Regions from separate parts of the Homo sapiens genome. Here region 1 is linked to region 2. The links come from fine-mapping of genetic effects on gene expression. A gene starts in region 2. The other region holds a variant in brackets. All regions are shown on one strand. Distances are between the middles of the regions. Region 1 overlaps DYTN (dystrotelin). Region 2 holds the start of METTL21A (methyltransferase 21A, HSPA lysine).

What was found. PIP is the estimated chance that this variant, and not a neighbour inherited with it, causes the effect. A credible set is the group of variants that fine-mapping cannot tell apart.
Region 1: its variant is the best candidate, but not a certain one, in a credible set for the expression of METTL21A in transverse colon (GTEx, PIP 0.73).

The regions. Positions count from the first base shown.
Region 1 is chr2:206,653,936-206,659,310 of GRCh38, forward strand. The region is part of intron 11 of DYTN (dystrotelin); the gene reads right to left. Among named protein-coding and RNA genes, the nearest start is that of FAM237A, 14 kb to the left of the region's middle. The variant AACTTC/A (reference allele first, on the strand shown) is at 2,765.
Region 2 is chr2:207,623,132-207,628,506 of GRCh38, forward strand. It overlaps METTL21A (methyltransferase 21A, HSPA lysine), which reads right to left and starts at 2,263. Exons shown (of 4, transcript NM_001127395.5): 1 at 1,931-2,263; 2 at 1,098-1,273. The coding sequence starts at 1,244. RefSeq lists a silencer at 1,859-2,458 and enhancers at 2,729-3,433, 3,434-4,136.

The sequences.
Region 1 (5,375 bases), 970 kb before region 2:
CCCCTTGCCTTTCTCTAAGTCACTCTCCACACAATGCCAGAATGTTTTAAAAATAGAAACATACCCCACTTCAAAATAAATGCCCAGTGCAAGCACAGTGCTTGGCACACAACAAATGCTTGATTAATATTTGTTGAATGAATGAATTAGCGATTGAATGATGAGCCAACTACACTTTTTTTCTGCCTTCATGGAGCTTAAATGCTGGAAATATATCTTTTCCCATTAATTACTTCTGTGTATATCTGTATCTCTATCTATCTATGAAGCAATGAATATAGTGAATCCTCGGACAACATGAATTTGAACTGTGTGAGCCAACTAATTCATGGATTTTCTTCTACCTCTGCCATACCTGAGAAAGCAAGAGCAACCCCTCCTCTGACTCCTTATTTTCAGCCTACTCAACGTGAAGATGATGAGGATGAAGATCTTTATGATGATCTACTTCCAGTTAATGAATAGTAAATATATTTTCTTTTCCTTATGATTCCCTTAATAACATTTTCTTTTTTCTAGCTTACTTTTTTGTAAGAATGCAATATATGATACAAATAACATACAAAATATTTGTCGATCAACTGTTTATTTTACTGGTAAGGCTTCTGTTCAACAGTAGGCTATTGGTAGTTAAGTTTTAGAGGAGTCAAAAGTTATATGCTGATTTTTGGCAGCATGGAGGGTCAGTGCCCCTAACTTTTACATTGCTCAAGGGTCAACTCTGTATCCATTACTATTCCAGTAAACACTTCTAGGACTCCCAGGCAACATTTGAGATTACCTTATAAACAAATGAAATACAAATAAGGTGCTCTCCTGAGCTTGGTCATTTCCTTAGAATTTGCTAAATTTGAAGTTTTATTTTCTGATTACTTGATACTTTTGAGTGATGGTTCTAGATGGGGAAAAAAGGAACAGGAATAAACCTCCTGCTCCCCACCCTTAACCATGCTCTCGTACATATAAGATCATGGCATATGCAAATAGAGATCTTTTTACTTGTTCCTTTCTGATTGGGATGCCTCTTCTTTCCTTTTCTTGTCTAATTACTCTGGCTAGGACTTCCAGTACTATGTTGAATAGATGTAGTGAAAATAAGCATCCTTGCTTTGTTCCTGATCTTAAAGAAAAAAACTTCAGCTTTTCACCTTTAAGAAAAAGGAATATGATGTTAGCTGTGGGTTTTTCTTATTTGGACTTTATTATGTGGAGATAATTTCTTTCTATTCCTAGTTTGTTGAGAGTTTCTCATGAGAGTGTATTGAATTCTGTAAAATGCTTTTTTCCTATATCTATTGTGATGATTGTGTGATTTTTTTTTTTTTTTTGAGACAGAGTCTTGCTCTGTTGCCCAGGCTGGAGCACAGTGATGTGATCATAGTTCACTGTAACTTTGAACTCCTGGGCTCAAATGATTCTCTTGTCTCAGTCTCTTGAGTAGCTAGGATTATAGGCATGTGTCACCATGCCCAGCTAAATTTTCTTTTTCTTTGAGATAGGGTCTTGCTCTGTCACCCAGGCTGGAGTGCAGTGGTGCAATCACAGCTCACCGAAGCCTTGATCTTCCAGGCTCAGGCCATCCTCCTGCTTCAGTCTCTTGAGTAGCTGGGACTGCAGGCACGTACCAACACATCCAGCTAATTAAAAAAAAATTTTTTTTTTTTTTTTTGTAGAGATAGGGTCTTGACAAGTTGCTCAGGCTGGTCTCAAACTCTTGGCCTCAATTGGTCCTCCCACCTCAGCCTCCCAAAGCACTAGGATTATAGGCATAAGCCACCACGCCTGGTCATTGATTTCTTCCTTGACCCACTGGTTGTTCAAGAATGTGTTGTGTAGTTTAACATCTCTATACATTTTTTAGTTTTCCTTCTGCTATTAATTTCTAGTTTTATTTCACTGTGGTTGGAAAAGATATTTGGCATGATTTCAATGTTCTTAAATTTGTTAAGACTTGTTTTGTGCATTAACATATGATCTATCCCAGAAAATGTTCCATGTTTGCTGGAGAAGAATGTATATTCTGCACTATTGGGTGAAATAGTCTTTATATGTCTCTCAGGCCTATTTGGTTTACTGTTTTCAAGTCTACTATTTCCTTATTGATTTTCTGTCTGGAGGTTCTAATCATTATTGAAAGTGGTTTATTGAAGTCCCCTACTATTATTCTATCACTGTCTATTTCTCCCTTCAGTTTTGTCAATAATTGCTTTATATATTTAGGTGCTCTGATGTTTGGTGTATATATTATAATAATTATAGTATCTTCTGGGTAAATTGACCCTTTTATCATTTTATAATGACTTCTTTGTCACTTGTGTGAGTTTTTGACTTAAAGTCTATTTTGTCTCATATAACTATAGCCACCCCTGCTATTTTTGAATACCATTAACATAAAATATCTTTTTCCATACCTTCATTTTCAGCCTTTGTGTCCTTAAATCTGAAGTGAGTCTTTTGTAGACAGCATATAGTTGGGTCTTTTTCTTCAATCCATTCAGCAACTGTATGTATATCTTTTGATTGGAGGCTTTAATCCATTTATATTTAATAATTATTGATAGGGGAGGACAATTTTGCCATTTTGAGAGTTGTTTTCTGTCTGTCTTTTAGTTGTATTGCCCCTCTTCTTCTAGTTTGCTGTCTTTTTAAAAAAATATTATTTCGTTTTTTTCTTTTGTGCATCTTTGACAGCTATTATATTTGCACTTACTATGAGGCTTATATAAAAATCTTATAGTAATAACAGCCTATTTTGGCTGATAAT[AACTTC/A]ACTTCAATTGCATTCAAAAAGTTTTCACTTTTAGTTCCCATACACTTTTCTAAATAGTCTTTTTTTTTTTTTTTGAGACGGAGTTTCACTCTTTTTGCCCAGGCTGGAGTGCAATGGCATGATCTTGGTTCACCGCAACCTCTGCCTCCCGGGTTCAAGTGATTCTCCTGCCTCAGCCTCCTAAGTAACTGGGATTAAAGGTGCATGCCACCACGTCCGGCTAATTTTGTAGTTTTAGTAGAGATGGGGTTTCTACATGTTGGTCAGGCTGGTCTTGAACTCCCAATCTCAGGTGATCCGCCCACCTCGGCTTCCCAAAGTGCTGGGATTATAGTCGTGAGCCATCTCGCCCAGCCATCCCCATACACTTTTCTTTTTGGTTTGTTTATTTTTATTTTGTTCATTGTTTCATTGTTGTTTTCATTTTAGAGATGGGATCTTGTTGTCTTGCCCAGAATGGAGTGCAGTGGTGTGATTAGCTCACTGTAACCTCAAACACCAAGGCTCAAGTGACCCTCCCTCCTCAGCTTCCTGAGTAGATATGACTATAGGCATGCGTCACCACACCACACATCTTTACAAAAATTTTTTGGTAAAGATGTGGTCTCACTATGTTGCTCAGGCATACTACCAGCTTCAAGCTAGTAACTGCTTGTTGAAACTACTAGCTTCAATCAGTTCCCTGACTCAGCCTCTCAAAGTGCTGGGATTACAGATGTGAGCCACCACATCCAGCCCACATTTTGTTACTGACATCACAATTTACTTATTTTTGTATTGTATATTCATTAACATATTTTAATGTTGTTTTTAATACTTGAGTCTTTTAACTTTCATATTAAAATTAAAATTATTTAAATACCACTATTTTCATTTTATAGTATTTTGTATTTGCCTGTATATATTTACCTTTACTAATGAGTTGTTGGATATAGTATTTTTGATTGATAGTTTATTTCTTCTTTCAGCACTTTGAATATATTATCCCATTTCTGTGAGATTTCTGATGCAAAAACTGTTATAATCTTATAAGGGTTTCTTTCTACATGATAAGTCACTTTTCTCTTGCTGCTTTCAAAATTCTCTTTTGTGTTTGACTTTTGACAATTTGGTTATAATGTGTCTCAGTGTTGAAGTCTTTCAGTTCATCTAACTCAGGGTCTGTTAGGATTCTTGGATCTGGACGTCCATTTTCTTTCCCAAATTTGAGAAATTTTTGCCCTTGTTTATTTGAATAAGCTTTCTGACCCTTTCTTTCTCCTCTGCTTCTACAACTCCCATATTACAAATATTGGTCAGCTTAATAGCATCCCATGCGTCCCTTAAACGTTCATCACTCTTTCTTCTTTTTTCCCTTCTTGTCAGATAATTTCAAATGATCTGTCTTTGGGTTTGCTGATTTTTCTGCTTGATCTAGTCTGCTGTTGAACACTTCTATTGAAATTTTTAGTTCAATTATTACATTCTTCAGCTCCAAGACTATTGTTTGGTTCTTTTAAAAATTTCTCTATCTCTTTGTTGAAATTCTCATTTCGTTCATGTATTGTTCTCCTGGCTCACTGAGCATTTTTATGATGGTTATTTTCAATTCTCTGTCAGGTAATTCAAATATTACTATTTCATAAGGGTCCATTTTGGAGCTCTTACTTCTTTGTTGGACTATGTTTCTCTATTACTTCTTCTTCTTTACTCTTTATTTTAGTATCTGTGCAATAGAAAAAATAACTATCTCTCTTAGTCTTCAAGACTGGCCTCATACAGAAGACCCTTAGCAATCAGCCTGGTCAGAGATTCTCGGGGGCTGTTCAAACGTTCATACTAGTCCCAGCTGCCTTTTGTTTTTAAGCATCTCTCAGGCATCTAGAATATGATGGGTTTTGTCAGTAATTTGAGACAGGTTAGACAGAAGCCCAGTCCCTTGGACAGCCCCCAGAAGAGTTAGAAAGTTGGATGAATGGTCCAATTGTTTCCCCCTGCAAAGTGAGAAGCTGGGATATGGGTTTTATTTTCCTGTTTGCTTTGCATTGAGCCTTTTGGAAAAGCTATGATAAGTGTTTTCATGCTAGTCCAAGATACCATCTTTGTTCTCAAACCATGCCCTCCTAATATCATCACTCTACTCCTCTGTCTTGACTTCTCATCAGTGAAACCTATAGTGGCAAATGAATAGTTAAAAAGGATGGAAAAAGAAGCTAGAAAAATAACTTAGTAGACATATGCAAGAAATTTTACTATCAAATGGAAAAAAATAGTTGAATAATACAGTAAAACAAGAGGACTTTTTTTTTTTTTTTTGCCACAGCAGAGGCAAGGAACAGCTGACACTTTTCCAAATTTATTTTTTACTGCAATTTTTATGCAAATTATTCACTACTGATTTTCAATCCAAGTTTGGAATTTAAAGAGGTTTGTGGAACTTCTACACAGTTTTCTCTTTTCCGTTAAGTTCTCACAGTCTCTTTTTTTTTTTTTTTTTTTTTTTTTGAGACGGAGTCTCACCCTGTCGCCCAGGTTGGAGTGCACGGGCGCGATCTCAGCTCACTGCAAGCTCCGCCTCCTGGGTTCAAGCCATTCTCCTGCCTCAGGCTCCCGAGTAGCTGGGACT
Region 2 (5,375 bases):
GACTTCAAGTGATCTGCCCACCTCGGCCTCCCAAACTGCTGGGATTACAGGTGTGAGCCACCACACCAGGCCTATATCTTTATTATTACCAGAGTAACTTCCATGTAGTTACCTGGACTGGATTCCTAGAAGTGGTATTACTACATTAGAATATATTGAGATTTTTATTCCTACGTGTTTAACATCCCTAACAATGTTAAAACTGTCAAACTGTATTTATGCCAATCATGCATTCAACATTAATTGAGTTCCCACTGAGTCCTAGGTGTGGGGCTAGATGCTGAGGGCTCAAGTCAGAACAGGGCAGGGAGAGGAAGAAGTTAAAAAGCAGTTACAATTTTTTAACAATTACAACTATGGAAAACTTAAAGAAAACACATAATCTCCATTTTGGGCTCTGCCACTTTACAATACTCTGTGAAATAAAGAGACTAACTCGGCTGGGCGCTGTGGCTCACGCCTGTAATCCCAGCACTTTGGGAGGCTGAGGCAGGTGGATCACTTGAGGTCAGGAGTTCCAGATCAGCCTGGCCAACATGTCGAAACCCCATCTCTACCAAAAAATACAAAAATTAACCAGGTGTGGTGGCGTGCACCTGTAGCCCCAGTTACTCCAGAGGCTGAGGTGGGAGAATCACTTGAACCCAGGAAGCGGAGGCTGCATTGAGCCAGGATCGCACCACTGCACTCCAGCCTGGGCAACAGAACGAGACTATGTCTCAAAAGAAAAAAAGACTAACTCGTGTCCAAAGCAGTTGGGGGCTTTCCTTCCTATCCTCTCCGACAAGTCATTAACTTTCCTCAGCTTTCATTTACACCTTTAAAATGTAATCTATGTGGAGGGACAAGAGGAGTGACTAAGGGATACGGGTTTGAGAGTGGCAGTGATAGTAAAACTTTTAAAATTGAAGCGGTAATAGTTGCACTACTCTGTGAATATACTGTATTTTTAAAACCGCACTGAATTGTGCACTTTAAATAGGTAAAGTGTATGCTATGTGAATTATATCTCAATAAAGCTGTTCTAAAAAAAATAAAAAATAAAAGCCAGTCTTGCAAGTGTGAACGTTTTCAGAGGTCCCCCAGGGCTTACTTACCGCATCCCAAACCACCGCTGCGACTCCCAGGTGTCTCCAGTCCTGCCGGATCTGGATCGTGTGGTTTGCAAAGGAAAAAGTTGCAAGAGGCTTGTGGAATTTCTGCAACCCAAATTCCGTGGTCTCCTCATAGGGCACGAGGGCCATTCCGCCTGCACCCCGCCCTCTGCTCAGACCTGCCGTGCAAAAGAATCCTGGGTGACGCTCTGGCCAAAAGATACATTATCTGTTCTTAACTAACTCCAAATGCTTTTAAGGTCGTTTACAAGTTCAAAAGAAAAAAAGAAACAGGTGGAGGAAGCCTTTGTCCAATTTCTTTTGCATGGCTCTTCCGAATCTGAGTGAGATTTGGCTCGGAATTTGTGTCAACGGATGTGTTTGGGGAAGAAGAAAAAAAAAGCCCAGAACATTCCAACTTCCGCAGAATACCCTATACACTGCACTGCTACCACTCCGTGAATTCAGAACTACACAAGCGGCGGAAGCGGCGGTGATCGCCCAGGGCCCCAGAGCAGCGCGGAAAGCAGCGCTTCCAACCCAGACCCGGGCGCCCGGACTGCAGCTGCAGCCAGCCGGGCGGCCCGGGTTCTTTCGCTACGGTTTCGCTACCCACCTCCCCTCCTCCATCGGCTGCTTCGATAGTGATAACAATGGGACAGAACCTGCCCTTAGACTGGGTGTTAGCGGTTTGATAAACCAGAAATACATGGTCGCCGCAGTTCCGTCTCCCCGACCCTGGAAGTGAGCGACACTGGGGGCCTCCAAGCGGCTCGCGGGGACAGCGGGGACTCGGAGGCCTCCCCGAACTCCCCCTATAGCTGCCCCCCACTCACCCCTCTCCCGGGACGACCAGTGCGCCCTTCCTGCCCGGGGGCCCCGGAGCTGCGGCAACCCTCCAGGGGTGAGAGGGAGACCAGGCGAGGGGGGTCACAGGGCCTCTTAGGATCCCCAGGCCATACGGGGCGCCGTGAGCTGCCCGGCGGAGCACCCAGGGCTCGCCCAGGCCGGGCTGAGGCGCCGCCACGCCGGTACTTACGGCCCGGGAGGCGGTCCCGCGTGGAGCGCGCGCTCCGCTTTCCCCGCCCCGGGCTGGCTGCGAAAACCGCCGGCCTTAAAGAGCCCGCGACGCGGGGGCGGGCGGCCCCGGCCCGGAGCCACGCATTTCCGGTCTCCCGGCACCCAGCCTCCGGCAGGTGCCCCCGGAGCTCACGGCGAGGGCGGGGCCGGGCCGTGGCGCGGTGGAGGAGTGACGTTGCGGGAGGGGGGACCGGGGCTTTCCCTCGTGCGTCCCCAGGGTACACGGACGACTTAATCCGTTTCCCCCGCCGCCGAGGGAGGCGCTGTGGGGGCGGGAGCAAGAGTGAGATCGGGGTGCCGAACTGCCGCGGGTGCACAGGGAGAGCATGGGGTGCCCTGGGCTCTCCTAGCGGGAGAGAAAAGCCACCCACCTGGCGCTGAATGTGCCTCTCGACCTTTTCTATCATGTGCTCCGCCGCTCTCTGCCTCTGACTTTGTCGCTTGCGCGTTGTGCCTGTTTTTTAAAGGTGGCGCGTTAGCGGATGATGGAGACAGCTCGCTCCGAAGAAGGCATGGTCACTCTAGTCCCCGCGTCTCCACGGTGGGGTCAGAAGCGGCGTAATAGCCCGCTTGGCGGCAATCGAGTGGAAAAGTCACAAAACCCTTTTCAACTAAAGCACAGTGGGGGAAGTGAACACGTGGCGCCCGAGTCCAAGTTTTTAAAGTGGGGCGGGGGTCGGCGGGCTCTGGCTGCAGTCGGAAGCGCGGAGCTCTGGGCGTGCGCTCGGCTCCAGCCCCGGCCCCAGGCGGCGCTGCAGACTCCAGTGCCCCAGTCTCCCTCCTCCCGATGCCAAGACGCACCTGCCCGTGAGGACCCACGCTGGACGTGGAAGGTGCCGAGGGCCTGGTACCCTGGCCGCAGGCCCTGGCAGAGCGCGCGGCTGGAGTGGGTCCATTGAGTGGGACCGTGCGGGGACCGGCATCCTCCCGGGGCAGGCTTCTTTTTCCTCCTGGGGCCCCTCGCCCCACACCGCCCGCTGCGCTCTCAGCGCGGCTGCACGTTAGAACCAGCTGGGGTAAACCTCCCTTACCAGTCCCCCGCCCCAAGAGCTGGCCATGGGAGGGGGCCCGAGCGCTGATTTTTTTGTTTGGTTTTTTGCTTTTGTTTTTGTTTTTGTTTTTGTTTTGAGACGGAGTCTCTCTCTGTCGCCCAGGCTGGAGTGCAAGGGCGCGAACTCGGCTCACTGCAGTCTCCGCCTTCCGGGTTCAAGCGATTCTCCTGCCTCATTCTCCCGTGTAGCTAGGATTACAGGCCTGCGCCAGCACGCCAGCTAATTTTTGTGGGATTTTGTTTGTTTGTTTGAGACGGAGTCTTGCTCTGTCGCCAGGCTGGAGTGCAGTGGCGCGATCTCGGCTCACTGCAGCCTCCACCTCCCGGGTTCAAGCAGTTCTCCTGCCTCAGCCTCCAAAGTAGCTGGAATTACAGGCGCCCGCCGCCACACCCGGCTTTTTTTGTGTTTTTAGTAGAGACGGGGCTTCACCATGTTGGCCAGGCTGGCCTTGAACTCCTGATCTCCGGTGATCCGCTCATCTCAGCCTCCCAAAATGCGGGATTACAGGTGTGAACCACTGCCACCTCCCCCACCCCTACCGCCCGAGCGCTGATTTTTTTTTTTTATTATTATTATTCAGAGTTTCGCTCTTGTCACCCAGGGTGGAGTGCAATGGCATGATCTCGGCTCACTGCAACCTCCGCCTCCCAGGTTCAAGGGATTCTCCTGCCTCAGCCTCCAAGTAGCTTAGATTAAGGGGCCCACCACCACGACTGGCTAATTTTTGTATTTTTAGTAGAGACGGGGGTTTCACCACGTTGGCCAGACTGGTCTCGAACTCATGACTAAAGGTGATCCACCCGCCTCGGCCTCGCAAAGTGCTGGGATCACAGGCATGAGCCACCGCGCCCGGCAAGCGCTGATATTTTTAAGAGCTCCCGGGGCCGCCCCCGGGAGCCTGCTTCCCGCGGTGGGAGCCTGGCGGGGGCCTGAACCTCTCTCTCCTGGCCTCTTCCGTCCTGTAGGCGGCGTCCCCGGCCTCCAGATTAATCTTCCATCGGAAGGTGGGGCCTGTGGCTTCGAGGGTAACCTCAGGGAACTTGGAAGACCACCAGTGAGGGACTTTTACCTCCTTTTTCGTTTTCTTTTTTGGTCCTCTCGCTTTCTCTCTTAGTATTTCCTTTCTCTCTTACCTCCTGCACTTGGTGTTTCTGCCTCTCAGCTTTCCCTTTATCGAAGACCTCCCTTTCTTGCCTTTATTTTCTCTCTGTCCCTTTTTGCAGGGAGAACCAGCAATGGGCACAAGAAAGAACATGTATGGGCTTTGGGGCCAGACAAATATGGAAAATTTAAATTATTCCTCTGACTCTTTAAATGGGATGACTTTGGGAAATTACTAAACCTCGCTAGATCCCAGGCTGCTCATCCCTGAAGCCTGGCATGGAGCCTTGGGCCCCTTCTGTTTTTTCTCCCTATTCTCCATCCTTTCTGCTGAAATCAAGCATATGACCTCAAAAAACAAAGCAAAACCTTCCCCACCTCTCCAGCACTCTAACATGGAACATGTGCCTCATTATATTATGAGTTTTCTAGGAAGGTGTCATTTACTTTTTCTCAACCGTCTTGTCCTCCCAATGTTCTAAGCTGTATCAGATGGCTCAGGAAGCACCAAAAGGAATATTGAGGAACATATGCAACTCGTATAGCAGTGTAGCCATTAAGCAGAGCTCTGTTTTTATCAAAATAAGCCAGTGGTCCACTGAATATTTGAAAATACATTTTTAATCCTAAAAACAAGTTGGTGTGTGGCAGACTACATATTGTTTGGAGTAGTCGGCCAAGTGTGGTGGCTCACGCCTGTAATCCTAACACTTTGGGAGGCCAGGGTGGGAGGATCACTTGAGCCCAGGAGTTCAAGATCAGCCTGGCCAACATAGTAAGACCCCATGTCTAAAAAAATTTTTTTAAAGGCCAGGTGCAGTGGCTCACACCTGTAATCCCAGCACTTTGGGAGGCTGAGGCGGGTGGATTACAAGGTCAGAAGATCGAGACCATCCTGGCTAACACGGTGAAACCCCATGTCTACTAAAAATACTAAAAATTAGCCGGGCATGGTGGTGGACACCTGTAGTCCCAGCTACTCAGGAGGCTGAGGCAGAAGAATGGCGTGAACCCAGGAGGCAGAGCTTGCAGTGAGCTGAGATTGCAC